Regions from separate parts of the Homo sapiens genome. Here all the other regions are reported to be linked to region 1. Evidence: microRNA targets listed by miRTarBase, many of them from high-throughput screens and not tested one by one. Region 1 holds a microRNA gene; each other region holds the end of a gene's coding sequence.

The links. Region 1 holds the annotated microRNA hsa-miR-6826-3p (CUCCCCUCUCUUUCCUGUUCAG, at 2,243-2,264, shown strand). A microRNA usually pairs through its seed, bases 2 to 8, with sites in the 3' UTR of a target mRNA and lowers its output. Matches are read on the target gene's strand: a 7mer-m8 pairs with bases 2 to 8, a 7mer-A1 pairs with bases 2 to 7 and ends in A, and an 8mer does both.
Region 2: miRTarBase lists WDR76 as a target of hsa-miR-6826-3p. Seed matches in the 3' UTR shown: 7mer-m8 at 1,228-1,234 and 7mer-m8 at 2,453-2,459.
Region 3: miRTarBase lists ZNF85 as a target of hsa-miR-6826-3p. The part of its 3' UTR that is shown has no 7-base or 8-base seed match.
Region 4: miRTarBase lists NETO1 as a target of hsa-miR-6826-3p. Seed matches in the 3' UTR shown: 7mer-A1 at 2,317-2,323.
Region 5: the mRNA of SHB is a reported target of hsa-miR-6826-3p. Seed matches in the 3' UTR shown: 7mer-m8 at 1,573-1,579 and 7mer-A1 at 3,826-3,832.
Region 6: miRTarBase lists HOXA1 as a target of hsa-miR-6826-3p. Seed matches in the 3' UTR shown: 8mer at 3,175-3,182.

What each region holds. Positions count from the first base shown.
Region 1 is chr3:129,269,980-129,275,068 of GRCh38, forward strand. It overlaps MIR6826 (microRNA 6826), which reads left to right and starts at 2,167; the gene lies at 2,167-2,264. It overlaps COPG1 (coat protein complex I subunit gamma 1), which reads left to right. Exons shown (of 24, transcript NM_016128.4): 19 at 1,788-1,930; 20 at 2,265-2,436; 21 at 2,828-2,925; 22 at 4,859-4,997.
Region 2 is chr15:43,865,369-43,870,457 of GRCh38, forward strand. WDR76 (WD repeat domain 76) reads left to right here. Exons shown (of 13, transcript NM_024908.4): 13 at 760-3,044. The coding sequence ends at 1,024. Among named protein-coding and RNA genes, the nearest start is that of WDR76, 41 kb to the left of the region's middle.
Region 3 is chr19:20,949,883-20,954,971 of GRCh38, reverse strand. It overlaps ZNF85 (zinc finger protein 85), which reads right to left. Exons shown (of 4, transcript NM_003429.5): 4 at 4,275-5,089. The coding sequence ends at 4,670. Among named protein-coding and RNA genes, the nearest start is that of ZNF85, 29 kb to the right of the region's middle.
Region 4 is chr18:72,744,297-72,749,385 of GRCh38, reverse strand. NETO1 (neuropilin and tolloid like 1) reads left to right here. Exons shown (of 11, transcript NM_138966.5): 10 at 298-372; 11 at 1,222-5,089. The coding sequence ends at 358. Among named protein-coding and RNA genes, the nearest start is that of MIR548AV, 110 kb to the left of the region's middle.
Region 5 is chr9:37,915,592-37,920,591 of GRCh38, reverse strand. It overlaps SHB (SH2 domain containing adaptor protein B), which reads left to right. Exons shown (of 6, transcript NM_003028.3): 6 at 588-4,694. The coding sequence ends at 771. Among named protein-coding and RNA genes, the nearest start is that of SLC25A51, 14 kb to the right of the region's middle.
Region 6 is chr7:27,090,054-27,095,142 of GRCh38, forward strand. It overlaps HOXA1 (homeobox A1), which reads right to left. Exons shown (of 2, transcript NM_005522.5): 2 at 2,940-4,742. The coding sequence ends at 4,387. Among named protein-coding and RNA genes, the nearest start is that of HOXA1, 3.4 kb to the right of the region's middle. RefSeq lists enhancers at 1,535-2,445, 4,034-4,534, 4,535-5,035.

The DNA.
Region 1 (5,089 bases):
CACCGTCTTTAAGGGCCCTTCTAGGGCAGAAGGTCAGAGTAGAGTGATTTGAAGAGGCCACACTCCTGGCCTTTTCAAATCTCTCTACTCTGACCTTCTGCCCTAGAAGGGCCCTTATGATTACACTGGCCCCCCCTGGATAATCCAGGATAACCCCTAGCTCAAGATCCTTAATTTAATCACATCTACAAAGTCCCTTTTACCATGCAAGGTAACATAGCTGCAGGTTCTGGGAATTAGCATGTGGGCATCTTGGAGTCATTATTCTGCCACACCTTCCAAGGAAGTCTCCTAAGCCGCTTAAAGGGTAACAATTCCATTTTTAAACAATCATCCAAAAGCCTCACATTTACTAATCACATACATGTTCAGTTCCAAGAACTTTCCTAGATCTTGAATTTATTGCCTCATTTGTCTTTACAACAACGCTGTGATCAAGATAATGATATCAGTTTTATTGATGAAGAGTCTGAAACCCTACCAACAGAATCCCCCAGGGAGTAAGTATCAGGCCCAAAACTCTGAGTCCCAAGAAAATAAATATCAATAGAAAAGCACTCTAGTGGTTGATGGTCATGGTGGCCCAAAAGTTCCTCCTAATATCTAGCCTGGATTGTTCTGGGCTTTTTATTGCCTGCATATTCATTAGATTCAGTCTTCAGGCTGCAGAGGGCTGAAGTGGTCACATAGGCTGACTTTTTGTGGAGGAAAAAAGCAAAATAATAAAAATAAGGCCTACCTTTCTCTATGTCTGAAACGTGAATTGAGTACCTTCTAAGTAAAGGGAAAAATATCAGATCCATGGCCTCAAAGCACAATCCCTGTTCTCATGGAGTTCAATTAATTGGGAAGACAAGTTGAAAATCTTAGAGCAGTGGTCTTTAAATATCAGTATATATTGGAATAATCTGAGGAAACATGTTAGAAATGCAAATTCCTTGATCCTGAAACCAGAGATTCTGATGTAGTAGATTTGGGATGGAGTCTGAGTTTTTAGCAAGCTCTGCCGCCAACCCCTAGTAATTCTGATACAGTTGATCCATGGTCATAGTGCGAGGAATCCTGCCATAGAATAGGTACAAGAGTGGCAGCTGTAGCCATTATAGGTGGACACCATGTGCACACATCTGCCAGATGCCTCATTCACTTGGGTTATTCCCTTTAGTTTGCAAGGAATGCCAGGACCAGCCAGGGTGGGGTCCCATGGGCCTGTGCTTGAATCCAGTGCTTGAACCTGGGCATAGGGTGTAGGGATAGGTCTTACCAGACACAAACAATTCTAAGTTAGGTTTTCTGCAACACTCTCATTCTGAAATATCTCTTTATTGGCCATTTGTCTTAACTGATAAATATATAGGACCAGTTTGTTATTTTGTCTGATTTTGTAGCTATAGCAGTATCGATCTTATTTTCCTAATTGTCACCTTCTTTTAAGAATCCTTGCTGCGGTAGGGGGCGGAAATCCTTGCTAAGCTTCTATAGCTGGGGGATTCTCCAATTAGGTCTAGGATTTTGTGGTCTCATATCAGTTTTTTGCTTCTGAGGTCTTTCATGGTACAGAGATGGGGAGAGTATTTGTGGGGGGTTGTGCCACATGAGCGAAGTCAGGGAGATGAGAAAATGCATGGATATATTCAGGAAATAATGAGTAGCCAGTTGGGTAAACATATCTATCCATCTAAGGTAGGGTGGAACACCTTGAGAATGGTCATGGGAATTTATTAGAAACCATCAACAAGTTGGTCTGGGGATCGAGAAGCTGAGTGAATGTGGCCTGTGGATTTCAGAGCAGTTGGCAGCAGTGCCAGAGTTCCGCGGTCTTGGGCCCCTCTTCAAGTCCTCGCCTGAGCCCGTGGCCCTCACCGAGTCAGAGACGGAGTATGTCATCCGCTGCACCAAACACACCTTCACCAACCACATGGTTTTTCAGGTGAGCAAGGTGGGCTGAGGCCCTGCTGGGGCATGCGCCCAGGGAGTTGTCCCAGGTCTGGCAGGTCCTGTAGGGTCATGGGTCCCCACACTGCATTGGTTGGGAGCCCAACTTGATGACAGAATCTGTCCCCAACAGGTCGGTCTCTCATATCTCTTGACTCGGGACATCCATGGCTCCCGATTGTCAGCATGAAGACAGGGAACCTGGGGCAGGGGGACTGGGATGGGAATCACCTTGGTCAATAGGAAAGAGGTGGGACCTCCTGGCTTTTCCTCTGCAGCATGGCTCGGACCTAGTGCAATGTTTAAGCTCCCCTCTCTTTCCTGTTCAGTTTGACTGCACAAACACACTCAATGACCAGACCTTGGAGAATGTCACAGTGCAGATGGAGCCCACTGAGGCCTATGAGGTGCTCTGTTACGTGCCTGCCCGGAGCCTGCCCTACAACCAGCCCGGGACCTGCTACACACTGGTGGCACTGCCCAAAGAAGACCCCACAGCTGGTGAGCCCCTCTCCAGATACCACCCTATCCTCCTGGGAGCTCATGGGGTCAGGAGGAGGTGGGCGGCTGGGCACCAGCTGTTTGCCTTCTATTAGAGCTTCAGCTCCTTGATTTCAGTCCCAAGAAGAAGAATAGCTGAGTCCCAAGTGCTCTTCTTTAAAAATTTTTTTTTTTAAAGAGACAGGATCTCACTAGAACTCATGACTTTCCTGTCCTACAAGGTGGCACCCTCTGTCCAGCTTTGTGGGATTGGATGGCTTGTTGCTGCTACTAATAACATAGCAGGGGCCTAGAAAGCAGGCTGTGACCCCTGCCTGCTTGTCCCCTGCAGGAGGAGCCCATCCCCTGCAGGCTGGGGACATCCTAACTACCCAGCCTCTCTTCCCCACAGTGGCCTGCACATTCAGCTGCATGATGAAGTTCACTGTCAAGGACTGTGATCCCACCACTGGGGAGACTGATGACGAAGGCTATGAGGATGAGTATGTGGTAAGATCCTGGTGTCAGGAAGCTCAGTTTTGTGCTGAGGCTGCAAAGCAACTCCCTTCAGGAACTGACAGTGAGACTGGAGCTGTTTTTGGCTTTTTAGCTCTTTAAAATTTTATTTTTTTATTTTTATTTTTTGAGATGAAGTTTCTCTTTTGTTACCCAGGCTGGAGTGCAGTGGCGCGATCTCGGCTCACTGCAACCTCTGTCTCCCTGGTCCAAGCGATTCTCTTGCCTCAGCCTCCCAAGTAGCTGGGATTACAGGCGCCCACCACCATGCCTGCCAAATTTTTTGTATTTTTGGTAGAGATAGGGTTTCACCATGTTGGCTAGGCTGGTCGCGATCTCCTCACCTCAGGTGATCCACCTACCTTGGCCTCCCAAAGTGTTGGGATTACAGGCGTGAGCCACCGCGCCCGGCCTAAAATAACTTTTTAAACTTATGGAAATACATGTTCATGTGTAAAAAGAAAACTTGGGAAATACAAAAACAAAATTCAAAACAAAGTATGAACAACAGGAAAACATTACTCATAATCCTTAGAGTTATTTTTGGGGGGAAGTGGTATAATTGAAATCATTCTTACAGTGTAGACCTTGCTATTTTAAAACCATAGTGTATTTTCCAGTATCATTACAAATACTTCATAAACACAATTTTTTTAGTGGATTTAAAATACTGTTATATACTATGTCAAAACTTGATTGACTTTTCACTCCTTTAATGTTGGGCATTTGGGTTTCCATATTTTCACTATTTATATTGCTGCATTAAATATCCCTTTAGATACAAATTTTTATCTGCATTTTAGATTATTTCTTTAGGATAGATTCCTAGAAGGAGAATAGTTGGGTCAAAGGGTAAGCATGATTTTAAGACATTTTGATTCCTCTTGTCAAATGCTTTCTGGATAAATTTGACCTGTTTGCTGTGCTGGGCAGTCCTTTCATGCACTGGAATAGCCCTTCTAAATTCTCCTATCTTAGCTCGGTGGAACTAAGTACAGGATCCTTCTGAGGTCTGACTTTGGGGCAGTGGCTCAGGGCCATCTGAGTGCAGACCATTATGCTCAGCCTGTGGATGGGGACTGTTAGAACTCCTCCTGACTAGAGGGACAGTCACAGTGGAATACAACTGACATTCGCCATTGTGTCATCCTAGAGTCACAGTTGAGGATGGATGGACCTTCCTTGAGCTGGAAATGACCCCGAGGCAGGAGCTGCTCTAAGACCAAGTGAGCTCCTTGAGAGAGCTGGGTCTGTTTGAGCCCATCCAGAGATGAAGAAAAAAAAAAAAGAGAGAGAGAGCTGGGTCTAAGTTGTATTTATATACACTGTAAACATCCACAGGAGTAGGGCCTCAGTGAAAATCTGATGGGAGAATGAATGGGGAACCTTCATGTAGACTCAGTGGGAGTATTATGTGTCAAGTTCAGGGAAGACACAGCTGAAATGGAGATAGAGATTCAGGATCTGTCAAATCCAGAGGACACAGCTGGGGTAGGAGGTTTCTGCTAGTTTCTGCTGAACTAGAAACAGCTGCTGGTCCTGAAGAGCTCATCATCCCCTAGGAGGGACAGGCATAGGAAGCAGACCTCTGAGAATGCTATGTAATTCCCTGCATGCCAGGTCCTGGAAGCACTGACACTAGGCAGGCTTAGAAGAGATGTGATCTCACAGCAGGCGGCTCTAGGCTGAATTAGTAGATTGGTACTTGGGATTAGGGCGTTTTCTGTTGAAGGGATACCATTTGCCTTTGGGCACCTCAAGGATAGGTACCTGGTCAAGTTGCTCTATGTCCCCAGAGTCTAGCACAGTCCTCAGTGCCGAGCAAGCACCTGTGGAAAGAGTTGCAGGAAGGGATGTGTGGATGAGTTCAGAGCAGAGGCCCGTAGGTGTGTAGATGGGTGCCTGATTTCTACCTCCATCTCTCCAGCTGGAAGATCTGGAAGTTACTGTAGCTGATCACATTCAAAAGGTCATGAAACTGAACTTCGAAGCAGCCTGGGATGAGGTAGGGGATGAATTTGAGAAGGAGGAAACGTTCACCTTGTCTACCATCAAGACACTTGAAGGTAAAATCCTGGGAATGCCATCTCTGGCCTAATTACTGTTCAAGATCTTTGGCTACTATTGAAGTGCTCATCCCTTTTCTCTCCAAGGATCC
Region 2 (5,089 bases), not on the chromosome of region 1:
TTCAAGTGATTCTCCGGCCTCAGCCTCCCTAGGAGCTGGGATTACAGGCACCCGCCACCATGGCCAGCTAATTTTCCTATTTTTAGTAGAGACGGGGTTTCACCATGTTGGCCAGGCTGTCTCGAACTCCTGACCTTGAATGATCCACCCTCTTGGCCTCCCAAAGTGCTGGGATTACAGGTGTGAGCCACTGTACCTGGCCAATTTTTGTGTTTTTAGTAGACTGGGTTTCGCCGTGTTGGACAGGCTGGTCTCGAACTCCTGACCTCAGGTGTTCCACCTGCCTCGGCCTCCCAAAGTGCTGGGATGACAGGCTTGGGCCACTGTGCCTGGCCATATTATGTATATTTTTAAAAAATTTATGTAGGGTGACTATTCTAGGGGGTAAGAATTTTCATTAATGATGGGGTCATTTAAGTGGCAGTGGGAAATGTGTAGTCCATACTTTAATGAAAAAGGATTGTTAGTGATATTAAGGCAAAAAGACTAAAAGGGCAGTACTTCTGTTTTTGCTTTTGGGAACTATAAAGGGCTCCATATGTTTTATTTTGGGAGATTTTTAGATGAGGAGGATATCGTCTCTGTCCAGAGGTTCAGTCCTGTAAGGATGAGGTAAGGTTGGTGGTAACTCAGTAACTTAATGAGAAGAAACTTGGCAGAGAAAACTAGCATTTAGGAGCAATGCCGTCTTTACCCTCTGCCCAATGCTACCTTATTTAACCTTACTTCATTTAAAAAATATATTGTTTTCCTCACTAGGCACAACACTTTCACTGGGCGATGGCTGACCAGGTTCCAAGCCATGTGGGATCCTAAACAAGAAGACTGTGTCATAGTTGGCAGCATGGCCCATCCACGACGGGTAGAAATCTTCCATGAGACAGGAAAGAGGGTGCATTCGTTTGGTGGAGAATACCTTGTCTCTGTGTGTTCCATCAATGCCATGCACCCAACTCGGTATATTTTGGCTGGAGGTAATTCCAGCGGGAAGATACATGTTTTTATGAATGAAAAAAGCTGCTGAGTTTTTGGTTTAGGAACATCAATTTGTTCAAATTGACCACTGTCTAAGGAGCCTAGTAATCGGCGTGCCTTAGTGTGTTTATGTGGTAATGTGTTACATTTAGCAATTATAACATTGTTTTATTAATAAGACTATAAGAAGAGTGTACTTTTAGTAAGGGAGAAGTCTTGGAGGGTTGCTTCTGCAGGACGGGGAGGGAATTTGAGGGGAGGCTGAGGTGCCGTCAGGACTTTTTTTTTTTTTTTTTTTTTGAGATGGAGTTTTGCTCTTGTTGCCCAGGCTGGAGTGCAATAGCGCGATCTTGGCTCACCGCAACCTCCGCCTCCCAGGTTCAAGCGATTCTCCTGCCTCAGACTCCTAAGTAGCTGGGATTACAGGCACCTGCCACCACGCCTGGCTATTTTTTTGTATTTTTAGTAGAGATGGGGTTTCATCATGTTGGCCAGGCTGGTCTCGAGCTCCTGACCTCAGGTGATCTGCCCGCCTCGGCCTCCAAAAGTGCTGGAATTACAGGCGTGAGCCACCATGCCTGGCCATCAGAACTTGTAATCAAGACAGTATGTTGAGAAATTCTAACATTATAAATTACAAAGCTTTGACTATTAAAGTTTTTGTGATCTAATGATACAGTTTTGATTCTATAGTAATTTGTGGCTTATTTTATAGTTTATAATGAATACTTATTTCTAGACTCATACACTGGAAGGGGACCCGGAAAGGTAATGTAACTCAGTGATTTTAAAACTTGATTTTTTTAACTGAGAACTTTTTTTGCCCCCTGCCTGTAGGTTAAGTCTTACGTGAAATGCCAAGATAATTGCTGAGCAGCTTTGGTTACCCAGGGCGGGGTCTGGGTCTGTCTGTACTTTGCCTTTACTCTAGATGGCTCCTGAGACACAGGCAGGACTCCCAAGCACCGGGTTGGGATCTGCCCTGGTCCCGGCATTCCAGTATAAGATTGCCTCAGACCTGTGTTTTTCAGACTGGGTTTTTGCTCTTCACATGAAATCAAGTTAGATGACAATGACTGGTGTTGAAAAAAATGAAAAGGAAAGAATTTGTAAAGAACAGAAAATATATTTGAGTAAGTATTGTTTGGTAAAACTTAGTTACATATGCATATATATTTGTTAGGTATATATGTTTATGTGTATTCTGATGTAAAATATATATATATATATATTTTATTACTATAGTACCATGGGTAATGGATAAAGAAGTTAAAGCTACTGCTTAGAATGAAGAAGGCCCCAGGCTTACCTGTCCCGATCTTTAAACTGTCCGAAGGAAATTCAATAGCCTGTTAAGTGAATACCTTCATTCTTACTTGTATTTGGGGGAATATTATGAAATACTCACCACTTTTGGTATTTTATGAAAATGTTTTCTTTTCAGAAGTTATGGTAATTTCAATGTGTTTGTTGTTGGGAGGGGAGCTGCCAAATCAGTTACTAATATTACTGTGTGACATCTATCCAACTTTTTTCATTATTCTTCATTGCCAAATACTGAAAGACTTGTAAATGGCTTTGGCAATATGTTTGAATTCTAAGAGGAAATATTTTCCCATAATTGTATATCAGAGAAATATAGTGATATACAATTTCCTTGAAAACCAATTTCTAAATAATTTTCTTCTCTGTAATCTAAGTGTAAAAAGGTTTAGTTTTTTAATAGGTTTAGGTGTTTATAAGCAATAGTTCTCTATTTTCTAGTTGATATAAGTAGAAGAATTGACAAGTGAGATGGAAATGTTAATTTATAAAGGGAAAGAAAAGCTAGGTGAGGTTGAGTTATAATTAAACTGTTCAGGAAACATCGTAAAGGCTTTAGGCTCCCTTTTTCATTTCTATACCAATTAATCTCATGGGTTCTAGAGTGGTTAGTTCTACGGGAATTGTTTTTGTTTTTGTTTTTAAAGATGCTGAAAACTACTCTCAATCAAATTAGTACCATCATTTAAGCTTTGAATACTTGGCAGTAATTGCCTGGGCTCGTCAATAAATGTTAGCAAATTCTTGATGTTCCTCACTTTTGTGGTTTCTTTTGCCATTGTGGCTTCATAAACAGTGCTATTTATATTCAGTTATACTTTATAGAGTTATATCTTCAGGCAGTGCAGGAAGGAAGGAGAATGAGTAGGGACTTTTTTTTTTTTTTATTGGTGATAAGCTTTCTAATGGAGTAATTGTTTAAATCTAGACAGCACATAAAAGAAAATTGTCTCCCTTGGGACATTCTTACACTGTAATCTGTAGTGAAAGGTACTTCTCCCACAGACTTGCCTACAGCTGTGTGGCTTCTGTAATTATGTGTGTATTATGATTGCCTCCTTCGGGATAAGCCTTTTCTGTAAGTTTGGCCTTTATGATATCTCTTAAGCTCTGAATTCCGCTTGAGTTTTTTTTTTTTTTTTTTTTTAAGATACCCAGGCTTTTGTTATGTAACTTTTAAGGAAGGAGCAGACAATTCTCATTTTTGGTTGTCAGAGACTTTGTCAGACTAGGAGAGACCACAAATGATTAGGAATTAATAGAATCTGAGTTGCTTAAGTCCTATTTTAGTATTCTGGTCTTTGAGCTTCCTTTCCACCAAGAAGATTTTGCAAGGGGAGTTCTCCAGGAAAACAGGGAGCCTTAGGGCTATGGATACAAGGATTTAAATCCTTTCAGCTAATGTACAGTACATGGGGTAGGGTGGGGGAGAAGACACACATGCCTTCTGAATCAATCTGAGAAGAGGAAATATATGCCCTCTAACTTCAGATTCCAAAAACTTCAATGTCCTATTGGGCGGTCCTTTCTGACTTAGTACATTTCCCCCTGCTTTTTAGTAGGGTGTTGATGGCTAGAAATAACAAGACAGCAGATTGTATTTTGACTTATTTGGCTGTAAATACTTGGATTTTCAAATGAAAAGGTAGAATTTATGAGGAAGATAACATTTAGTACACTTACACGGAGCTGAAGAACAAAACATTTTATGATACATTTTCCCCAAAATGGAAACTGGGCAAGAGGAAATTTATTAAAAGGGTGCTTTGCTTGTTTTACTCCATTCCATCAGCAGGTCGTAGGGGTCTGAAGAGGAAGCCTGTTCATGAGCTAAAACCAAAAGTGTGTTCAGGTGCAGAGGAGCTAGATTGTGCTAGAGGAACCCAAAGCAGAGGGAGTAGGGACTAGAGTCCTACAGGGGTGTGTGCACAGGTAGTTCTTGATAAGCTGTCAGCAGAAGGGAGGCTGCTGTGAATCGGCAGGGCCACGGGAAGCCACCCAGGTCCAGTGTTTCTTGTGCTTTTTACTCTTTGGATCACTTCAAGCAAAATCTTATGTCATAAAAACAAAAAATTCCGCTGGGGATAGGGTGCTAGATAGCATTTTTTAGGTAGTGGGTACCTCTGAAATTTGGAGGTAACATAGCCTGATTGGTGTTTAGGAGGATGATCTGGCAACAGAAATGGGAGAGTGGAGGGCAGGCAGAATTGAAAAGACAAAGATTAGGTAAGAAGCTAGCACAGTGGACCAAGCCCCCATTATCACCTCTTATCCTCATGGAATTTAGAAGACCATTTCCAATTCCGTAGCCACAGAGTGATGGTTACATAATCAGATGAGATAATGCTATAGGGATATATTTTGTAAATATGTGGTGGTGGTATCATTGTAGTTCCTTCTTAGAAAGTATTTTCTGTGCTCCCACTTACTCCAGGCTTGAGTAAGAACAGCAGACCAGAAGGTGGACAATCTGGGTTCTAGTTTGGACTCTACCACTATGTAATCTTGGGAAAATCACTTAGTCTTCTTGGTTTTCCTCATCAGAAAAATACCCAATTCACTTTAAAATTATTACATATATAGCTTCTCAGTTTTTTTTTTTTTTTTTTTTTTTGATGTGGAGTCTTGCTCTGTCACCCAGGCTGGAGTGTAGTGGTGTGATCTCAGCTCACTGCAACCTCCGCCTCCCAGGTTCAAGCGATTCTCCTACCTTAGCCTCCTGAGTAGCTGGAATTATAGGCGCCCGCCACCACACCTGGCTAATTTTTGTATTTTTAGTAGAGACGGGGGT
Region 3 (5,089 bases), not on the chromosome of region 1:
GCAGTGGCATAATCTCAGTTCACTGCAACCTCCAAATCCTGGGTTCAAGCAATTCTCTTGTCTCAGTCTCCTGAGTAACTGGGACTAGAGGTGCACACCACCACACCCAGGTAATTTTTGTATTTTTAGTAGAGATGGGGTTTCACCATATTGGTCAGGCTGGTCTCGAACTCCTGACCTCAGGTGATCCACCCGCCTCAGCCTCCCAAAGTGATGCGATTACAGGCGTGAGCCACTGCACACAGCCAATTAGTTACCTTATTAAGATGATTTGTTTTGTGCCAATATTGCTCTTTTCTTCTGAATATAGGTACAAATTCATATTCACAAAAACACACATACTTTATAATTTTCTTACCCTTAAGGTTTATCTTTAGAGTAATATATGTGTATATTTACATCTATGTAAATAAAAATTAAGAGTCTGTATGTGTTTGCAGGCAGTAAGACCACATGTTTAAAGAAAAATATTAACAAATTTTTAAATGTTTATTCAGAATTCAGAAATGTATGGATTTTATTAATACTTCTATACAATTCTTATTATGACCATAAAACAAAATCATGACCAAAATCTTGCCACTTGCCAAAGTGGCCAGATGGAAATAGACATTCCATGCAAATTGGTTACTGTAACCAATAACAATTGCACATTTCAAAAGAACTAAATGTGTAGAATAGGTTTGTAATACAAAGGGTAATGCTGGAGGTGATGGATACTTCACTTACCCTGATGTGATTGTTACATATTATATGCCTGTATCAAAATATTCTATATATGGTATAAATATATACACATACTATGTACTCACAAAAATTTTTAAAAATAAGTTCATATAAGAAAAAAAGAATAAAAATTTAACCTACAAGAACAATATTCTTTAACCTATTTGCAGTTTAAAGCCACTGGCAAAAGAGATGTTAGTTCATTATGTTACCAACCTGCACACTGTAACCATCTTTTAACTACATTCTTGAGTACGGTAGATAGGTTAAACTTAGTGGCATCACAACGCATCGTTGAATGCACAATGATCATAATATGTTTAAAAAAGTTTAATTATAAAACTAAGTTTACATGTAGTCTGAAAATTTAAAAACGTACTGCATTTTATTACATAGAAATATAATTAGTAAAATAATATATTACTAATTTTAACTAATATTAAAAATGTTTTTCATTTACTATAATGCAGAAGAATATTACTCTAAACAACCACCTCATATATCACTCAATATTATGTTAACCACAAAGAGCCCCACCACTTAGATTTTCATCATGCATCTTACGTTTTAATGTTCTTATTCTTTTTTTTTTTTTTGGTGGTACAATGGTTATTTTTTTCTTTTTTTTTATTATACTTTAAGTTTTAGGGTACATGTGCACATTGTGCAGGTTAGTTACATATGTATACATGTGCCATGCTGGTGCGCTCCTTTTTTGTTTTTGAGATGGAGTCTCGCCCTGTCACCCAGGCTGGAGCATACGTAATAGTGTACTTCTCCTTCTCCCTCTCCCTCTCCCTCTCCCCACGGTCTCCCTCTCCCTCTCTTTCCACGGTCTCCCTCTGATGCCGAGCCGAAGCTGGACTGTACTGCTGCCATCTCGGCTCACTGCAACCTCCTTGCCTGATTCTCCTGCCTCAGCCTGCCGAGTGCCTGCGACTGAAGGCGTGCGCTGCCACGCCTGACTGGTTTTCGTATTTTTTTGGTGGAGACGGGGTTTCGCTGTGTTGGCTGGGCTGGTCTCCAGCTCCTAACCGCGAGTGATCCGCCAGCCTCGGCCTCCCAAGGTGCCAGGATTGCAGACGGAGTCTCGTTCACTCAGTGCTCAATGTTGCCCAGGCTGGAGTGCAGTGGCGTGATCTCGGCTCGCTACAACCTCCACCTCCCAGCCGCCTGCCTTGGCCTCCCAAAGTGCCGAGATTGCAGCCTCTGCCTGGCTGCCACCCCGTCTGGGAAGTGAGGCGCGGCTCTGCCTGGCCGCCCATCGTCTGGGATGTAAGGAGCCCCTCTGCTCAGCTGCCCAGTCTGGGAAGTGAGGAGCGCCTCTTCCCAGCCGCCATCCCGTCTAGGAAGTGAGGAGCGTCTCTGCCCGGCCGCCCATCGTCGGAGATGCAGGGAGTGCCTCTGCCCGGCCGCGGCCCCGTCTGGGAGGTGAGGAGCGTCTCTGCCCGGCCGCCCCGTCTGAGAAGTGAGGAGCCCCTCCGCCCGGCAGCCACCCCGTCTGGGAAGTGAGGAGTGTCTCCGCCCGGCAGCCGCCCCGTCCGGGAGGGAGGTGGGGGGCCCGCCTCCGCCTGGCCGCCGCCCCGTCCAGGAAGTTGGGTGGGGGGGCGCCTCTGCCCAGCCGCCCCTTCTGGGAAGTGAGGAGCCCCTCTGCCCGGCCGCCACCCTGTCTGGGAGGTGTACGCAACAGCTCATTGAGAACGGGCCATGATGACGATGGCGGTTTTGTCGAATAGAAAAGGGGGAAAGGTGGGGAAAAGATAGAGAAATCAGATTGTTGCTGTGTCTATGTAGAAAGAAGTAGACATGGGAGACTTCATTTTGTTCTGTACTAAGAAAAATTCTTCTGCCTTGGGATGCTGTTGATCTATGACCTTACCCCCAACCCTGTGCTCTCTGAAACATGTGCTGTGTCCACTCAGGGTTAAATGGATTAAGGGCGGTGCAAGATGTGCTTTGTTAAACAGATGCTTGAAGGCAGCATGCTCGTTAAGAGTCATCACCACTCCCTAATCTCAAGTACCCAGGGACACAAACACTGCGGAAGGCCGCAGGGTCCTCTGCCTAGGAAAACCAGAGACCTTTGTTCACTTGTTTATCTGCTGACCTTCCCTCCACTATTGTCCTATGACCCTGCCAAATCCCCCTCTGCGAGAAACACCCAAGAATGATCAATAAAAAAATAAAAAATAAAATAAATAAAGAAAAAAAAAGAATAGTATACTTTTTTTTTTTTGAGATAGAGTCCTGCTCTGTTGCCCAGGCTAGTGTGGAGTGGTGCGACCTCGGCTCACTGCAACCTCTGCCTTTTGGGTTCAAGTGATTCTCCTGCCTCAGCTTCCCGAGTAGCTGGGGTTACAGGTGCGTGCCACAGTGGACAGCTAATTTTTGTAGTTTTTAATAGATGGGGTTTCACCATATTGGCCAGGCTGGTCTCAAACTCCTGACCTCATGATCTGCCTGTCTCAGCTTCCCAAAGTGCTGGGATTATACGTATGAGCCCTGCGCCCAGCCTAATGTTCTTATTCTTTAATAGAAAAGGTCATAAATAATGACCTAAGAAAAAAAAATCTCCTATCTTTGATGTAGCAACCACTGATCACATGCTTTCACATGTGAATATAATAGCAATGAAGAAGAAAGAGCATGAAGTAATTTGAAAGTTGAATGACATGATTATTTTCTTTTCAAAAAAACCTAACTTTTTTAAGGAAAAAAGTATACTTTGAATGTAATTAAAACTCTGCAAAAAAAGTTCTACTTCTTTTAAAGTTATATACAAATAATTAATCCACCAAATTTAGTTTTGGATTATTTTCTATACTCAGCACTCTGATTTAGTGTGGTGTCTGAAGTGCCAGCACCTTAGATATTTCTACTGTGAATCCTCTGATATTTACATAAACTTAACTTTGGATTAAATATATTTTTATATCTACTGCATCTGCAAAAATATATTTTAGTATGAATCCTCTGCTGCTTTTTAAGCTGTAGTTTTTGAAAAAGTTTTTCAAAATTTGTTACATTTGCAGGGTTTTTCTCAAATATAAATCCTCTGATGTTGGCCAGGTGTGGTGGCTCATGCCTCTAATCCCAGCACTTTGGCAGGCTGAGGCAGGTGGATCACCTGAGGTCAGGAGTTTGAGACCAGCCTGAACAACATGGAGAAACCCTGTCTCTTCCAAAAATACAAAATTATCCAGGCGTGGTGGCACATGCCTGTAATCCCAGTTACTCAGGAGGCTGAAGCAAGAAAATCGGTTGAACCCGGGAGGCAGAGGTTGTGGCGAGCCGAGAATGCGCCATTGCACTCCAGCCTCGGTAACAAGAGCGAAACTCCGTCTCAAAAAGAAAAAAAAAAAAATCTGATTTTAAACAAAATTTAAGCAACTGCTTCAGGGGTTTCCTCTAGTACAAAATCTGTACAATAAGATTTGTGATACAATTAAAGGTACTACAACCCTCTTTAAATTTGCAATGTTTGTCTTCAAAATGGTTACTCTTTTTCACATTAAAGGCTTATATTTTCTGAATGCTTTTGACAGTAATTCCATTTATAATGCTTTTATTAAGTACTTTCTGATGCTGAGTAAGATGTGAGCAGATATTAACGGCTTTTCCACATTCTTTATATTTGTATACTTTTTCTCAACTAAAAATTCTTTTCTGTGCAGTAAGGTGTGAGCATAAATTAAGTTTTGCCACATTGTTTGCACTTGTAGTTTGTTCCAATATGAATTATCTTACCTAAAGTGTGACAACCATTTAAAGACTTTGCCATAGTCTTCACATTTTTAGAATTTCTCACCAGTATGATTACTTTTATAAGTCTGAGGTGTTGTCAAAATTATTGTCACATCTTTCAGGTTAGTAGTTTCTCTCCAGTATAAATTTTCTTATGTTTAGTAAGACTTGTAAATTGATTAAAGCTTTGCCATAATTTTCATATTTGTAATTTTTCTCCGGTATGAATTATCTTATGTTTAGTAAGGACTGAGGACCATTTAAAAGCTTTGTCACATTCTTCACATTTGTAAGGTTTTTCTCCAGTATGAATTCTCTTATGTTTAGTAAGGTTTGAGGACTGGTTAAAGGCTTTGCCACATTCTTCACATGTGTAGGGTTTCTCTCCAGTATGAATTTTCTTATGTTTGGTAAGTTTTGAGGATTGGTTAAAAGCTTTGCCACATTCTTCACATTTGTATGGTTTCTCTCCAGTATGAATTATCTTATGGATAGTAAGGGTTGAGGGCCATTTAAAACCTTTGCCACATTCTTCACATTTGTAAGGTTTCTCTTCTGTATGACTTTTCTTATGTCTAGTAAGATTTGAGGACTGGTTAAAAGCTTTGCCACATTTTTC
Region 4 (5,089 bases), not on the chromosome of region 1:
GAGAAAAAACATTTAAATTTAGGAAAAATTATTTTAAATTCCAAAATCTTGTCAACTTATACTTCGTTTTGCATGTTTACTAGCATTTAGTTTATTTTATAAATCGTGACATACTTTCTCCATTCATTACATTCTCAAAACCTAAAATACTTCAGTTGATTTGATATGTTTTGCATGCTGACATAAGTCTATTTCCACAGTTTTCTGAATTTTAAAAATGCTTTTGAGTAAATATTTGTATACATATTTTTTTGTGCAAATAGTACTTTGTTGAATGAAATAGCCATAACATTCCAGGTTCTGCCTCATTGGGTCTCTAAGCAAACATGAATCTGAATACAACACAACTAGGGTCTAGAAAGAAAATTCAAGGTAAGCAGATGCCCTTGGTTCCTTTTCCTACTTTGTCGTATTCTGTTTTGTTGCAACTGTCTTGTAGTTTTTTAGGGAATGTGCTATTTATCCATTATTTCTTGAGATATGTGTTTCATGACATTTCACAATTAGAAATACGATGGGTTCAGTGTTTATAGGAGAGATGATTCTCGGGATACATACCTTTAAAACAAATCTTAGTATTCTTAACATCAAGAATTGTACTAAAATGTAATTTAGAAGGACGTCAAATTAATAATCTAAACTTTACATGTTTTAAGGTAAAGTTTTAATGAACTATCTCCAAAGAAATACTCGAAAAAAACCAAGGTTTTTAAACTAAGAAAATAGAATATTCAGTCTCAGTATAGCTGAAGTTAATATTTAAAACTGGTAACTACTTTCTTTATGTAATTTGGCAACAATTGTACTCAAAATTCGTACACTAAATATTTTTGGTACTGACACAATTTATAGACTCTTATTTTTGCATGAATATGTAGCTCATCTCATCAAAATTAAATGCAGCATGTTAAGTCAAATTTTATACTATAAAATTTGAATGCAAAAGGTTTCATTAATCCCAGTTGTCTACGTGTACATCGATTTTGTCATCAGATATCACAATGGCTTTACTTTTTGCTCTTGATTGTTTATATCTATATTAGCCTAATTTGTCTCCAATTGAATCTGCTTGACAGCTAATCTCTTCTAAACTCCTCAAGCCTATCAACTATTCTTGAACTAGGTGAATGCATTTCCATGCTCTATATTACCTTAATAAATTGGTGTATTTGTATGCATTTTTCATTGGGAGAAAATGTTTTAACTGTTTTTTATTTTCAGAGAAGAACTATTTATACAAACATGGGGACTGTGAAAAGAAAATTCTATAGTGAATTGTGAAAAGTGGACATATTTCTAAATTCATTCCACTGCCTTTATCCAAACTTAAGAATTACAGACATTTGTTATTCCTTCGGCAAGACATCCCCGCTGCACACTGATATGTTCATTTCGTAATTTGGTTGCTGGCCACCAAGTGCTCCTTAGTTTTTAAATACATTTTGAGATTAACTGGAAACTTGAAGAAGAAATTAGTTCCCGATTAAGACTATCCCAACTTTATTTTTATTGTCAGTTTCACTTTTGTTTCTATGTTGTTTTATGTCTTTGTTATATAATTGTACATTGTGTGATATGTGAAAAAAAAACACGAATTTGGATGAACCTTGTGTTACATGTACATTGTTTTCATTATATAGACAGCTTGAGAATAGTGCGTTCCTGAATGATTTTGAACATGCTACAGTGAAAAGTGACAGTGTGGACCATGGAATCACCAGCTAGAGGTTATGGACTATACACACCTATTATTATATTCTGATTAAATACAGGAAAAAGTAACAAGTAAAATTACTAGATTGCAATAAAAAAATTCATTTTTTGGTCTTTCCTGTATACCCCTGATTTCCTTTTTGTTTTATATCAAAGAAAGTACTGAGTTTCAGAAATCCTTTTTGAAGTCAGGTATTTTACCATTCATACTCTACAGTAGAAATGTTTTTGATTAAGCACTCAGCAATATGACCAAATTGACAGTTTGAGAAAATACCCTGCATGTCAGTACTGGATATTTGAGTTGGGAAAATATCCTTTTTGTTAGACACATTGTGAAAAGCATGCATTGTCAAATACTGTTGTTACTCTTCCATTTCTTTATGTCATATGCTTGCTACTTACGACTTTTTATATAAATATATATAAAATGTATAATAATTTCCTAATTTGAGTTAAGAGAAATGTTTTCTTCCATTAGAGTGATTAAAAAACTGACTCACATAAATACACATTTTATGTCAACTCTTTCCACCTTTTAGGGTACAGGATGTCCTTCAGTATTGAGGTTTACTTCCCAAAATATTTGGCTTCTAAAAGTTTAGGGGAATATTTTCTTCTTTTAGAATAGGGAACTCTTTTTAAAACTGCTTTAAAATCACAAGCCCTTTTATGAATTAAACCACCATTATGAATTATTCTTATTCTCAGGTACACATAATACACCTGAAAGCTTAGTGATTATGATGTGTTTAACATAAAGTAAAATCCTAAAATATATTTTACTGCTATTAAATTATATACACACTCTGTAAAGTTTGATTTGGTGAGTGGTTATTTTTTAAAATATTCAATGTGTAATCTTACAAAATAAATTTTTAAAATAAGAATTACTATCAGTATATATGCTTCCCAACATTTTCAAAACTACTGAATTCTCCAGGTTTAAAGAACTCTGTCCTTCCACTAACAGAGCAGTCTGGTCTACTAAAATTTGGACTTTGCAATTCAAGCAGGCTTTGCAAACTAGATGAATTACTGTTATACTTCCCTACTAGGAATACAATGTCATATATGTTAAAAAATAAGCAAATAGAAAATAAATTTTTATAATAGAAAAGTCAAAGAGTTATCATAGCCATTATAAACACTCTATCTTGAAAAAATGTCAAGCTACAGAATCACTTCAATGAATTTGATAAACTAGGGAATCAGAAAAGGTTTTGAACATGACAAAGATTATTTTTCATTGTTATGCTACATAGTTTTATACACATTGCTTATGATAAAATGTACCCTTTTTTATTTGGCTTGACTGGTTTATTTATTACCATGGTTCCTTTTTTGCCCTTTAATTTAAAATTAATACACCAAAGATTTTTTTAAAGGATTAATCATATCTTATATTGCTTTCTCCATTTAGAAATCTTCAGAGGACTCCTTTCCCTTTGAATGATAATCTCAAAAGTATGATATAACTGTCAAGATTTTTTATTTGTAACAGCAATAAAAATAGTGAAATAAGTTAGGTGAACATTTTACTATTAATTTGTTCTATAACTGTCCGGCATGTCCGTCCCCTCCAGTTTCTCCTGAATATACAGAATGCTGATTCCCTGCTTAAAAGGTATTTTCACCAGAAATCTACCAATGGGACTTTAAAAAAAAACACTAAATGAAGTATAATAATAAGAATGAATAGCTCACATATATTTAACACACAGCAGCTTCATGGGAAAACAACTGTATTTTAAATGAAGAACAGGCCTCCTCAGTGATAACTCTAAAATTTCTCAACAATGTACAGACACAGACTAATCATGAAAGAAGATAATGACGATGCTGGGCAGTGTCTGGAGGTAGCCTTTTCTCCTGGCATTCACTCTAGATGCTCAAACTTGGGAGTGCAGCGCTCTGGCAGAGTTGGGAGATGTTCTCTGGAGGGCTCTGGCGGTGCTTATTTATCAGCCAGTATTGAAATTTGTCAATATATCAAAAACGATTTAGTAGCTATATCAGACCTTATCACCTGAATGCAGCCTTTGGCCCACATTCTAAAGGTGGTGACACACATAGATAAGGAATGAGATGTCTCAAGACTTATAAGACATGTTATTTTAATAAATGATTATATTTTTTGATAAAGTGAATTCAAATATTACCAACCCAAGTGCTTTATTGATTTAACAAGATGATTTCAAATAATGCATTAAGTTAGCCTGCTGTGTTAATTTCATAAAGCTATTCTTTTTCATTTTATTTTTTCAAGTTTTCATTCACTTTTCAAAATAATGGTAGCATATAATCACATGCAATGCCAATGAATCCCCATATTAAGCTTCGTACTTCTGTCCAAATGTATTGTAGTTGCCTAATTTCAAGGTTCTAATTTGGAAATCTGATTTATTTTGTATGTTTTTATATACATACCAATTTTAAGCATTATCTTGCAAAGTAGACATAGGTGGTGTTTGATTTGCCATAATTAACTTGAATTTGATTTTGTAACCAAAATGTGGCTGTCCACATAATTGGAGATCAGTGTCTTTGGGCTTTTAATGGAGAACAAATCACATTGTGGTGTTGCTGGTTTTTCTGTTTCACATTTACTTTTGCTCTAGAAGTATTTCCGTGAGTCTGATGACTCCATAAGTTATGATCCTCAGTGTTAAGTAACTTAGACGGTTGGCATTACTTTAATATTCACTTAAGCTTCTGTATCATTTTTTTCTGTATTTTTCCCTTAGGAATTTAATTCGGGTCTTCCTCAAATTTTACAGCTTTAAAAAAATTCCATGAATGGGTTTTCCTCAACCTCAGAATATCATAATAAATTACAAGATATGACCCCCTGGTTCCTATTACCTTGATTAAAGTGGCGGCAATTAATTTACTGATGTTTTGTCAGTGAAATAAATAATAGCATCTTATGAAGTTTGTGTATCTCTGATGAAAATGAGTCATGTCAGATTCCCTCTCTGAAGGGAAGTTAAATAAACAACATTTTTAAAATTCTTTGAATTCTAAATAAATATGCTTTGAAAAGTGAGTTAGGGTTTTGTCTAATTGCACTGAGGCGAGCTAGCTTCGGTGCCATTTTTCTCTGTGCCCTTTTCCCTCCATGGATTCATTTCTATCTATTGCACTCTAGCGTAAAGGACCCAGCCAAGAAATTGTAAAATAGATTCAACAACAAAATAAACAGGTCTTGAGTTAATTATCAATCTCTATGCACTTAATTAATATTTCCCAAGCCCATCTTAAAGGTGTAATAAGGTAGAAAAATAAAAGTACACTGTTAAAATAGCCAGAAATGTTTTTATAAATAATCCTGCTAAATAAATCTGAGGCCCTTTGTTAATTTACAATTATGATT
Region 5 (5,000 bases), not on the chromosome of region 1:
TGGCTAACTGCCTGCAAGGGAGGCTGGGAAATGTAGTCCCTGGCTGGGTGGCCCCTTCCCAGTGACAGTTTCCTACTACTGAAAGGGAAGGACAGATCACTTGCCATCCCTGCCACACAGTTTCCTCCTCTGGAAACTGGGGGTGATGACCCCTGCCCTACCCACTTGTCATGGCATTGGGGACATGAACACACTTTGCACCTGTCAGGCAAGGCTTAAACAGGGATATGCACTGGTAATAGAAAAGAGGGACTAAGTTTTGTTTTGTTTTGTTTTGTTTTGTTTTGTTTTGTTTTGTTTTGTTTTGTTTTGTTTTTCTGAAGAAGTCCCTAGAAGCGCTCAGTGTTGGAATGCTCTCTTGTAGCAGTGGCGGCTGCTGCTGGTTCCGGGTCAGATGCCGGAATTGGGGGTGCGCTTGGGTGCAGCTGCATTTCATCTGGTCCTGGGCCTCGGTCCTGGCTTGGAGAGGTGCAGCTCACAGCCACTTCATGGCTGGGATCCCTTCTGTCCCAGACAGCTGAGGAGACCCTTGGCCTCAGCCTGAGTGTCAGGGGGGTAGTTCTGATAACTCTGTGTTTTGTTCACAGGAGCAACCAGGGTTTTATGCACATGAAACTGGCCAAAACCAAAGAGAAATACGTTCTGGGTCAGAACAGCCCTCCGTTCGACAGTGTCCCGGAAGTCATCCACTACTACACCACCAGAAAGCTACCCATCAAAGGGGCTGAGCACTTGTCCCTCCTCTATCCCGTGGCTGTGAGGACCCTGTGAGCGGACCAGACCTGCCCTGCTCTGTGACAGAGCCTGAGACTTGGAGGTGCCAGAGGCCCCCCACCAACCAGCCCAGCCACTGTTGCTGGCTGTGTCGTTTGTGTTGTGTGTATGGTACTAGCACACCACTGCATGTCTCTAGAATGCTGTTGCCACTTACGGGGGCTGGAGAAGGCCTGGATAAAGACAGAAGGGCGGCAACACACCACCCCAGCCCCCACCCCCACCCTCTCCTTGAGTTTCTGTGAATTAAAATATTTGCAAATCCAAAGAGATGCCTTCCAGGATGAACAAAGGCAGACCAGCTCCGAGGGGCGGGGTAGGGTGGGGCGGGAGCTCCCTGGCTGACATCTCTTTGTTCTCCAGCTGTCTCAAATTCACACCTCTGTACAGGGCAAAGTTTTCCCACAGGAGCCCCCCTACTGATGCTGGGAGCCAAATGCTGGTGCTTTGAGAGTCCCGGAGGCCCCGGGGTTCCCGCCCCGCTGGTGTGTATATGTGTGTCTGTGTGAGTGTGTGTGTGAGTACAGATGTGAGAAGGTGGTCACACACAGATGGGTAAGCCCACTGATCTACTTGTAGTCACTCAGTGTAATCATTAGGCTATCTTCAAGGAATCATTGTGCAGTCAAAAAGAGGATTCAATTATTTATGAATAGGGTGTGTAAATAAAATAGTCATTTAATATATAGCCTTATCCTTTTTTGATATACTGCAGAGGGTCTCTGAGGGGGCAGTTCTGGTTTCACTCCCAGAGCAAGGCGTGTCTCCTCTGGGCTTGCTGCTGTGGCAGGCCCCAGGGAGGGGAGGGAGGCCGAGGCCTCAGCTCCAGCCCTCAGCAGCTCTGGACACAAGAGCCGTCTGCTCTGACAACTGGGCTGAGGCAGTCGGTAGCACTCTGGGAGTCAACCCAGAGCTCAGAGTTCAGGCTTCAGCAGTGGACATAGTCAGGAGCCTCCAGTGTTGACCAAAAAACCAGTCTTTCCCTCCTGCAGTGGGACGTCTGTGTTGACACCCCCCCAACCCCTGGACACAGCACCCAGCTGGCTACAAAGGGCTCTCTCCCCACTATCTGTTAGCACCACCTGGGAGGTATTTGGCATGTAGGGAAAGGGAGACAGAGAAGGAACGTCATTTGCCCAAAGCCACACAGCTCACCAGCAGCAGAGCGGTTCTGCAGCCAATGCTCTTTCGTTGGTTCTGCATGGCCTTGCTGTCACCCTGCCCATGGAGGAGGGAGAATCCTGACCTCCCAGGGACATAGAGCCCTCAGTGGTCCACACTGCTTCCACACACAAGAACACCTACACACACACACACACACACACACACAGCCCTCAGTGGTCCACACTGCTTCCACACACAAGAACACCTACACACACACACACACACACACACAGCCCTCAGTGGTCCACACTGCTTCCACACACAAGAACACCTACACACGCACACGCACACGCGACCTCTCTCTTGCTTGCCATAGCAGGGTCCTCCCACACAGGCCAGGCAGCCCCGATGAGGCTAAGAGTTTCTCAGCTCTCCTGCTTTTTCCACCCACCCAGTAGCATGAAGATGTGGCTGCCCTCTCCTGAATGAGATACAAGGGTTCCAGAGCCTTCGCCAGGCACCAGCTGGTCTGAATGAACTAGAAGTTTGACGACTGTCATCCCTGGCCCACCTGGGCAGAGCACAAGGGGCCGAGTTTGAATGTCATCAGCAGGTTCAGACATCAGCGCTGCTCATGTCTTTAGAGACTGTTTGGAGGTGGTTCCAGCTCACTGTTCACATGCAGAGACACAGGCCCGGAGAAGGAGGACTCGCCAAGGCCACGTGTCGAGCTGGGACTGAGCCCTGCCCCTTTAGGTAGCTGCGTGGACTTCAGCGGTTTGTGCAAAGCCCTGCCCTTGGTGACCCGCCTTTAGTGACCAGTCTGCCTCTTGGGTCTTCCTCCCAGGCCTTGTCTGGCACGTCCACGTGGCCCAGCCCTCATAGAGACCACGCTGGCTGTGGCCTGGGTTTAATCTCTTAAAGAAGCCAATCCTTTCCTTGCCTGTTTGGCATTTCCTAAAACATCCCTCAATGAGGGAGGAAGGCAGGGACACCCTGGAACGATTCGTGCTTTCCTTTGGGGGAGTGGGAAGGTAGGTGGGAAATGACAAGATGAGTGAGGAGTTGGCACTTGGCCAAACAGAGGAGCCTGGACCCCAAGGCTTATTCTCAGAGGAGGCCCAAGAGAGGCTGAGGAAGAGGGGGAACAACCCTCCGGCGGGGGAGGAGGGTGAGACCTCACACTGGCAAGTTCAGGTCCAGCCACTTCCTGAGGCTGCTGGGTGGGGCCGCACCTCACGGTCCTTCCCTGTAGACCATCTTCCCGGGCACATTGCTCCTCAGAAAAGGCTCTGGGAGGGTCTCAGTGGAAGCTGGCAGCTGTGCCCTCTGGCCCTGACTTGGCCTCTTAGGGTATTCCTGGGACCCTCCCTCTGTCCCTGGCCTTCGTCTTCCTGAAGTTTCCCTGGGAGGCCCAACCTCCTGCCCCTCTCAGGGACAGAGGCCAGCAGAGGAGCCAGCTTACAGGATGGGAGCTGCTGAAAAGAATTTTTTTCCCTTAATTTTATGAACCTCTCCCTCTTCTTCCTCTAATTGTGACCGTTTCCTGTGTCAGCCTGTATTCATGTTTTCTTGGACATCTAACAATTGAAACAGCTTTTCCCTTTCAGAAACACTCACATTCAGGTTACTGGCTTTGGTTTGGTTTTTGTTTTGGGTTTGTTTTTTTTTTTTTTCATCTGCTGCCAATTAATTGGGGAAAAAATTGAGCTGGATTTCTTTGAGAGAAAAGAAAAGCTCCTGCCACACAACGTCGCGCCCTCGGCATTTTGTCTGAGAACCTCCAGCACTAGCGGCTGTTTCTGTGTCTCCCTTCTTTGCTGGCTTTATTATTGACCATAATGCCTGCCCACTTGAGCAACTCTGTCCTTGAGCGCTGAGGAGTCAAGGGCCCTTCTGGCAGCCCCCCAAACAGGATGGCGCCCACAGAAAGAAAGGAGGCTTTGTAGGGGAAGAGGGCCCCACCGCCTGCCAGTCCCGTCCTGAAGTCAGAAGAATGGCCCAGGCTGACACCCTCTCCTGGAGAGAGGCTCACAGCGTAGCTGTTCCCAGGAAAGGGGTGCAAAGACTCCGAGGCTTCAGGAGGCAGGCCCTGTCCTCACAGGGCGGCTGTGGGCCGGGGCCCCTCTGTGGCCTGAGAGTGAGCAGGAGGGAAACCTGAAGCAGCTACCCGCAAGGCGTCCGGTCAACAGGGTGGAGCTGCAGGCTCCCTCTGCCCATTCCCAGAACCAGCGGCCCCCTTTGTAAGATGCTGAACACGAAGTTCCGGTAGCTCCCCAGACGCTGTCTCAGAAGTGGTGATATCATTGACCAAGGGCCTGGCAAGGACCGGCAGCCAGGGTCCCCATTTGCTCTTGCAGCCCTAGGGACTGTGCAGGTAGAAGCCCTGCCAGCAGAGCAGGCTGGCGTTTGGTGTTGGCCCACAGACACCCGTGAAGGGTCATGGCCGAATCAGGCAGCTGTCCAGCCAACTGTCTCTCCACCCTTCCAGAATTGGTGATCAGCGAAGACCAAATTCGGCAAGCCATCCAGAGGGAGTGCAGGGCGCACAGTCTTAGATGTGGGCGCACCTCCCAGAACCCCACGGGGACTTGTTCACAGGCGCGCTTGCAGGAGGGCAAGCCCCTTGGTCCTGGAACACAGGTGCCCCTTGGCCTTTCCACCTCCCTCCTTGGGGCTGTTTGCATCCCTGCCAGGAGCCTTAAACCAGCCACCTACTGCTGAAGTCTCTTGTAACATTCCAAATCTATGTGACACACTGTATAATGATGAATATTTAATGTGAAGCTCTTAATATACTACAAGTGTCTTGTTTACCATTTGTCTTTTTTTTTTCTTTCTTTTTTTTTTGAGACAGGGTCTTTCTCTGTTACCCAGCCTGGGGTGCAGTGGCACAGTCTCCACTCACTGCAGCCTTTGCCTCCCAGGCTCTGGTGATCCTCCTACCTGAGCCTCCCACATAGCGGAGACTACAGACATGCACCACCATGCCCAGCTAATTTTTCCATTTTTAGTAGAGATGGGGTTTTGCCATGTTGGCCAGGCTACTGGTCTCACTCCTGGGCTTAAGGGATCCTCCCACCTTGGCCTCCCAAAGTCCTGGGATTACTGGCGGGTGCCTG
Region 6 (5,089 bases), not on the chromosome of region 1:
GGGTGCCTTTTTCTGATCCATAGAGTGAGAGATTAGGGATGTGGGTCCCATTCAATTCTGGTCATTTAGGCACAAGGAGTCCTAAGGCAGAATTTTTGTGTGTTCTCACAAATGCAGGCACAAAGGGGACTTATCTAAGGCAGAGGGTCACCAAAGTTGACCAGTGACTAGCTTATCCCAATAGTGGCATGCTAACTAAAGGGTGTTCTTGTATGTACTGAAAAAGCCATAGCGTTTCTTTTACAGCCCCATCCAATATAAAGAAAGATGTTGTTCATGCACTAATTTCAGTATTTTTAAGCACAGGAGTTGCCTGTCTCTCAAAATAAATTAAAGCCTGAAATGCCTAGAGCTTCTGCTTTAAGAATGATTATTCTTAAGGAGGAAACACAAACAGCAGTGACCATTTTTCACAGACGTGCTCAGCCATCAGGAAAGCTTAATAAATCCCTATTTAGTATGCATTTATGCAGTGATTACATGAACTTTGACCTCTGAAGAGCTGTAGCAATTAGCTTCAGTGTCTAGCATCTTCTACTCACCATTCCCCACTGGCTTCCTTGTGTCTTCCTTTTTCATCTCTCAATACTTCATGCATTAAGAAGGCGTAAAATTTAAAAGTTGACTTTCCACCTGAGGTATTTGCTTCTGCGCAAGCCAATTCTCCCTCCCCCCTTTCCCACTCAACAGCCATCTCAGATGGATATTGGGGCTCTGATTGTCAATATTACTCAAACACAAATGGATTTCAATTCAATCTTGCCCTGTACTTTCACAAAGATAAACTCTAATGGCCCAAAGAGCTTCATTTCATAGCTTGTGGCATCTGAAATAAATCAGATATCTTCTGTCAGACTAATTTAACATTTTAACAATATTTGATGTGATTTATTTAAAGTCAAATGAAACTGAATGGATTGGCAGAAAACTAGAGGAGGGGGCAGGAGAAGGGCAGCTGGAAGCTTCCAAAAAACAAAAAACAAAAAAGAAAAAAAGGAAGAAAAGAAAAGAACCAAGAGGGGAGAGGAAAGTGTTTTAAGTTTCTAGTAAACATTGTTTAGCAAAAGAATAATAGGAAAGTTGCCCCTTTTCCAAAGAGGGATGGAACTATAATTGTTGCCTTTAGTTGAGAGCTCAGATAAACTGCTGGGACTCATTCTAAAGTGACCCATCACTGCATTCATCTCTTCTTGAACTTTCGGTGAACCTGAGATTAAACAGGGGTGAGCAGCTAAGCAGTTTGTTGTTAGCAGCCTTTTCAACAACCCTTTCAGACTGAGTAAATATTGATCGGTTTGAATCTGATTGCCCCAGAGGAAAACACCACCGCATTTGAATAGCCTCCAAAAGTAAACTTTAAAAGGTGAAACCCAGAGCAGACTTCAGAGCCAAAGCAAGACCTCAACTCAGCCTAGTTTGGGAACACTCTGTATTTGGGGAGTACTGTGGATAAATGTAGAGGAAGTGAGGAAAAAAACATTGGAAAACTAGAATTTTGTATCGCAGTTATCCCAGGTGCCTAACTGAGACCCTTGTTTCCTTTGTAAATGTATCAATAAAATGTTATTTTCAGTTTTCCCACTCTGTGTTGTTTCAGTTACCATTGCTGTCATTTTTCAAGTAGCTAACTGTGCTCCTTAGAGACCAAAGCAGAGAGACCTTGAAATAGGATGTGTTAAGCGCCTTTGATTTAATCGATTGAGACAGCTAAAAAGATACAAATGTTTTCCTTGTTGAAAGGTGTATTAATGTTTCCTAAATGCATTGCTTGTTAACTGATTTATTCCATGACCTAGAGAAAGCTAGAGATGGTTAGCCATAATTTATTGTTCTCTCTTGCTGCTACATTAAAACCAGCATCTTAAAGACTGGAATCTCTGGGATTCCAGTGGATCTCGCCCTGCTTTTAGATATTGAAATGGAGTCAATGGCATGCAAATGACACTTTAACACATTAAAGTATTTGGAAGCCAGCCATCTGTTTTGCTGTGTGGCCCTACACTAATAAACAAAAGATACAGTATAAGGCCAGGCAGGAAATGAAAGAAAGGGTTGACCGTCTTTGAAGTTCTTCTCCATCCACTTGAGTCTTTTACAGGCAACCTCAGAACCCAGCAGCTGAGGGGAGGGCACCCGGTGCCCTTGATATGGCCGCAGCAACTGCACCGCAAAGTTCAGCCTTCTCTTCTTTGACAGGGAAGTGCAGGAATTCTCACAAGTGCCCTAGACGGCCTGCAAATTCCAAATTTTTGTAGGGTTTTTCTCCTCCAGCCCGTCCTTTGTAAAACACCCTTTGGGGAGGAAGGAAGTCATCTGTCTGTGTTTGTTTTCAATGCTGTAAATTTTCTGCTGTACTGTTGGGCTAAATAAAATGCCTCCAAAAATGTGTGAAAGTAAAGGAAAGCAATAAAGAGGCCTGGGAGGAGAGCCACTTTGAACTCTATCATTTGCTGGCTTCCTCTTTTGAGAGCAGATACATACCTTGGTCAGAAACAACTTGGATATTGAAAGACTTCAGGGTAGCTTCCACAAGTTCACCTGGAAGTACCTGTGGAGCCCAGAGAAGAAAATGACTTTTTTTTTCTGGGTTATGTGGCATGGAATTAGAACTGTGGATCCTTTACAGCCATGACGGCTATGAAATCAAAGCTGAGTCTGAAGGGAATAAGATGTGCAACCCAGAGATGGGGAAGAAGGGGTGAAGAGCCGCAGGAAGGGATGGATGTTGACAGGAAGAATGGGGGAAGGGATGCAAGGGTTTACTAAAAACACTCCATTTCAAGGGTGGAATATATCAGAACTCTGCCTGACAATCCAAAAAGAAGGAAGAGGAGTGGAATAAGGGCCCCATCCTCACAACAACTTTATACTGGAGCTAATTAAATGTGAATCTCTTAGCTCTTGGTTCACTGATGTGAGGAAAGACTGACTGAAGACAGTTTTGGCTTTTGAAGGGAGTTCTGTTTATATATACGTCAACATCCAGTTGGAGGTGAAAAGGTTAGCACTTGACCCAGGAAGTATCCATGTTTGTTTCAAAAATAAATCTGCTTCATAAATTTCTTCATCAGTCTTTTTTTCCATTATGAGCTTTGATTATAATAAAGGAGCTGTTATTAACTTTTATTCAAGAAAAGGCCCATCTCTTTGAAAATATTTACCACCCTTCTCCCTTTCCCCTCATGAAATGTGCCAACTTCATAGGAATTAACAAATTGTAGCCCAGCCAAATACACGGATGCTTAAGCATACCTGAAACTTGAGTATATTTATTTATTACAGACATCCTAAGACCCGTAAACTCTGCTCTGGATCATATCACTCCAGGATCTCAGAGCTGTTCATGATTGTACAGGAAATGGGGAATATCATAGGCTCACAAAGGATAACTGATAGAACTCAGTGTGGTACTTTGGGGACATCAAACATTGTGCGACATGCAAAAGACTATTCACGAATAACACAAAATATACATTCATTGTGCCATCCATCACATTAACAATTGAGCTGAAAATACATTATATCCAGCTAAGATAACTGTGGAAGGAAGAAATTGGTTTGAATAATACTTTTAGGTTCTGAATAACCCAGCACAAATTTTAAACAGAGGGTGGCCCGAGAAGAAAGGGGTAGAGATTGGGAAAGACTTAGCACAGGAAGCCGGGTTTCTGAAGTTTGTGCTCTGCAGGGCTTCTTAACTGTAAGAACAAATCAAGGCTACCCTCTGAGGCATCTGATTGGGTTTAAATGAGGGAATTTTTTCTTTCACCTATAAAATTGTACCAGTTTAGAGAGTTTGCCCACCCTGTTTTAGTAACCTAAACATTTCTAGAAAATCTGTATAAAGATAAATCTCTTAGGACAAAGTATTTACAACCAGCAAACTCACACACATGAAAATGACTTAAATTAAGGGATGAATTAATTGTGTAAACATATAGTGCATCTCTTCTTCCTGAGCTCCTGGACTCGCCTTTCGCTATATCCTACTTTCAAGGACAAGGGAGGGGAGAGCTGTACATATAGTTAGATAAAAGATGAGAAGATTCCTTCTGGCATGTTTCTGTTGGCAAAGGGAACTATTTTCCAAAAGGTCATCTGAAAGGAACAGTAGGTTCTGTGAATTCTCCTAAAAGCAGGAGGGATGTTAAGGCCCACCAGAAAATGTATGCTGGCACCCAATCTGGATGAAGGTGTTAACCCCGCACCAAGTCTCTGGTCCAGAATTATCTGCAAATATATTATCCTGGCCAGGAGCTCCCCAGATAGGATTAGAAAGGAAGAAAGAGACTGTAAATGGAAAGAAAGATAAGCTAAGCATGTGCTTTGGGTAAGAAGTCCCAGCCCAAGGAGATGCCTGGGCTGTTGTCTGGGGCTGGAGCCGCCTCAGTGGGAGGTAGTCAGAGTGTCTGAGGTAGAAGACCCCGGGGAAGGAACGCAGGGCGAAGAGCTGGACTTCTCTGAGGATTCCTCGGCCTTCTCGTCGTTTCCTGGCGGGGTGGCCGGAGAGATGGGCAAGAGACCCTCCTTCTCACGTTTCTTTTGCTTCATTCGGCGGTTCTGGAACCAGATCTTCACTTGGGTCTCGTTGAGCTGCAGGGATGCAGCGATCTCCACCCTGCGGGCGCGCGTCAGGTACTTGTTGAAGTGGAACTCCTTCTCCAGTTCCGTGAGCTGCTTGGTAGTGAAGTTGGTGCGCACCGCGTTGGGTTGACCCAGGTAGCCGTACTCTCCAACTTTCCCTGGGGCAAAGTGGGAAGCCATGAGACGGAAATGTAAAAATTTTTAAATCGACTTGAGATTCCCCACACGCTTCATGGCAACACTCAGGTAAAGAAAAGATCAAGAACTCAGCACAAATCGGGCTGTGGAGGGTGAGTGATGAGGTGTAAAGTGTTAACCTGATGTAAACCATTAGCATGGTCAGACCGGTGATTAATGGAGCCTCAAGATATTAACAGAACACTACCGTCACAATAACCACCCCCACATACTTCCTATTTCCCAAATGTATAAAATCCTTGAAAACACACCAATCCCTGAGACTTCTTTGCCCCAACACCTCTGGGCACCCTCTCCATGCACTACA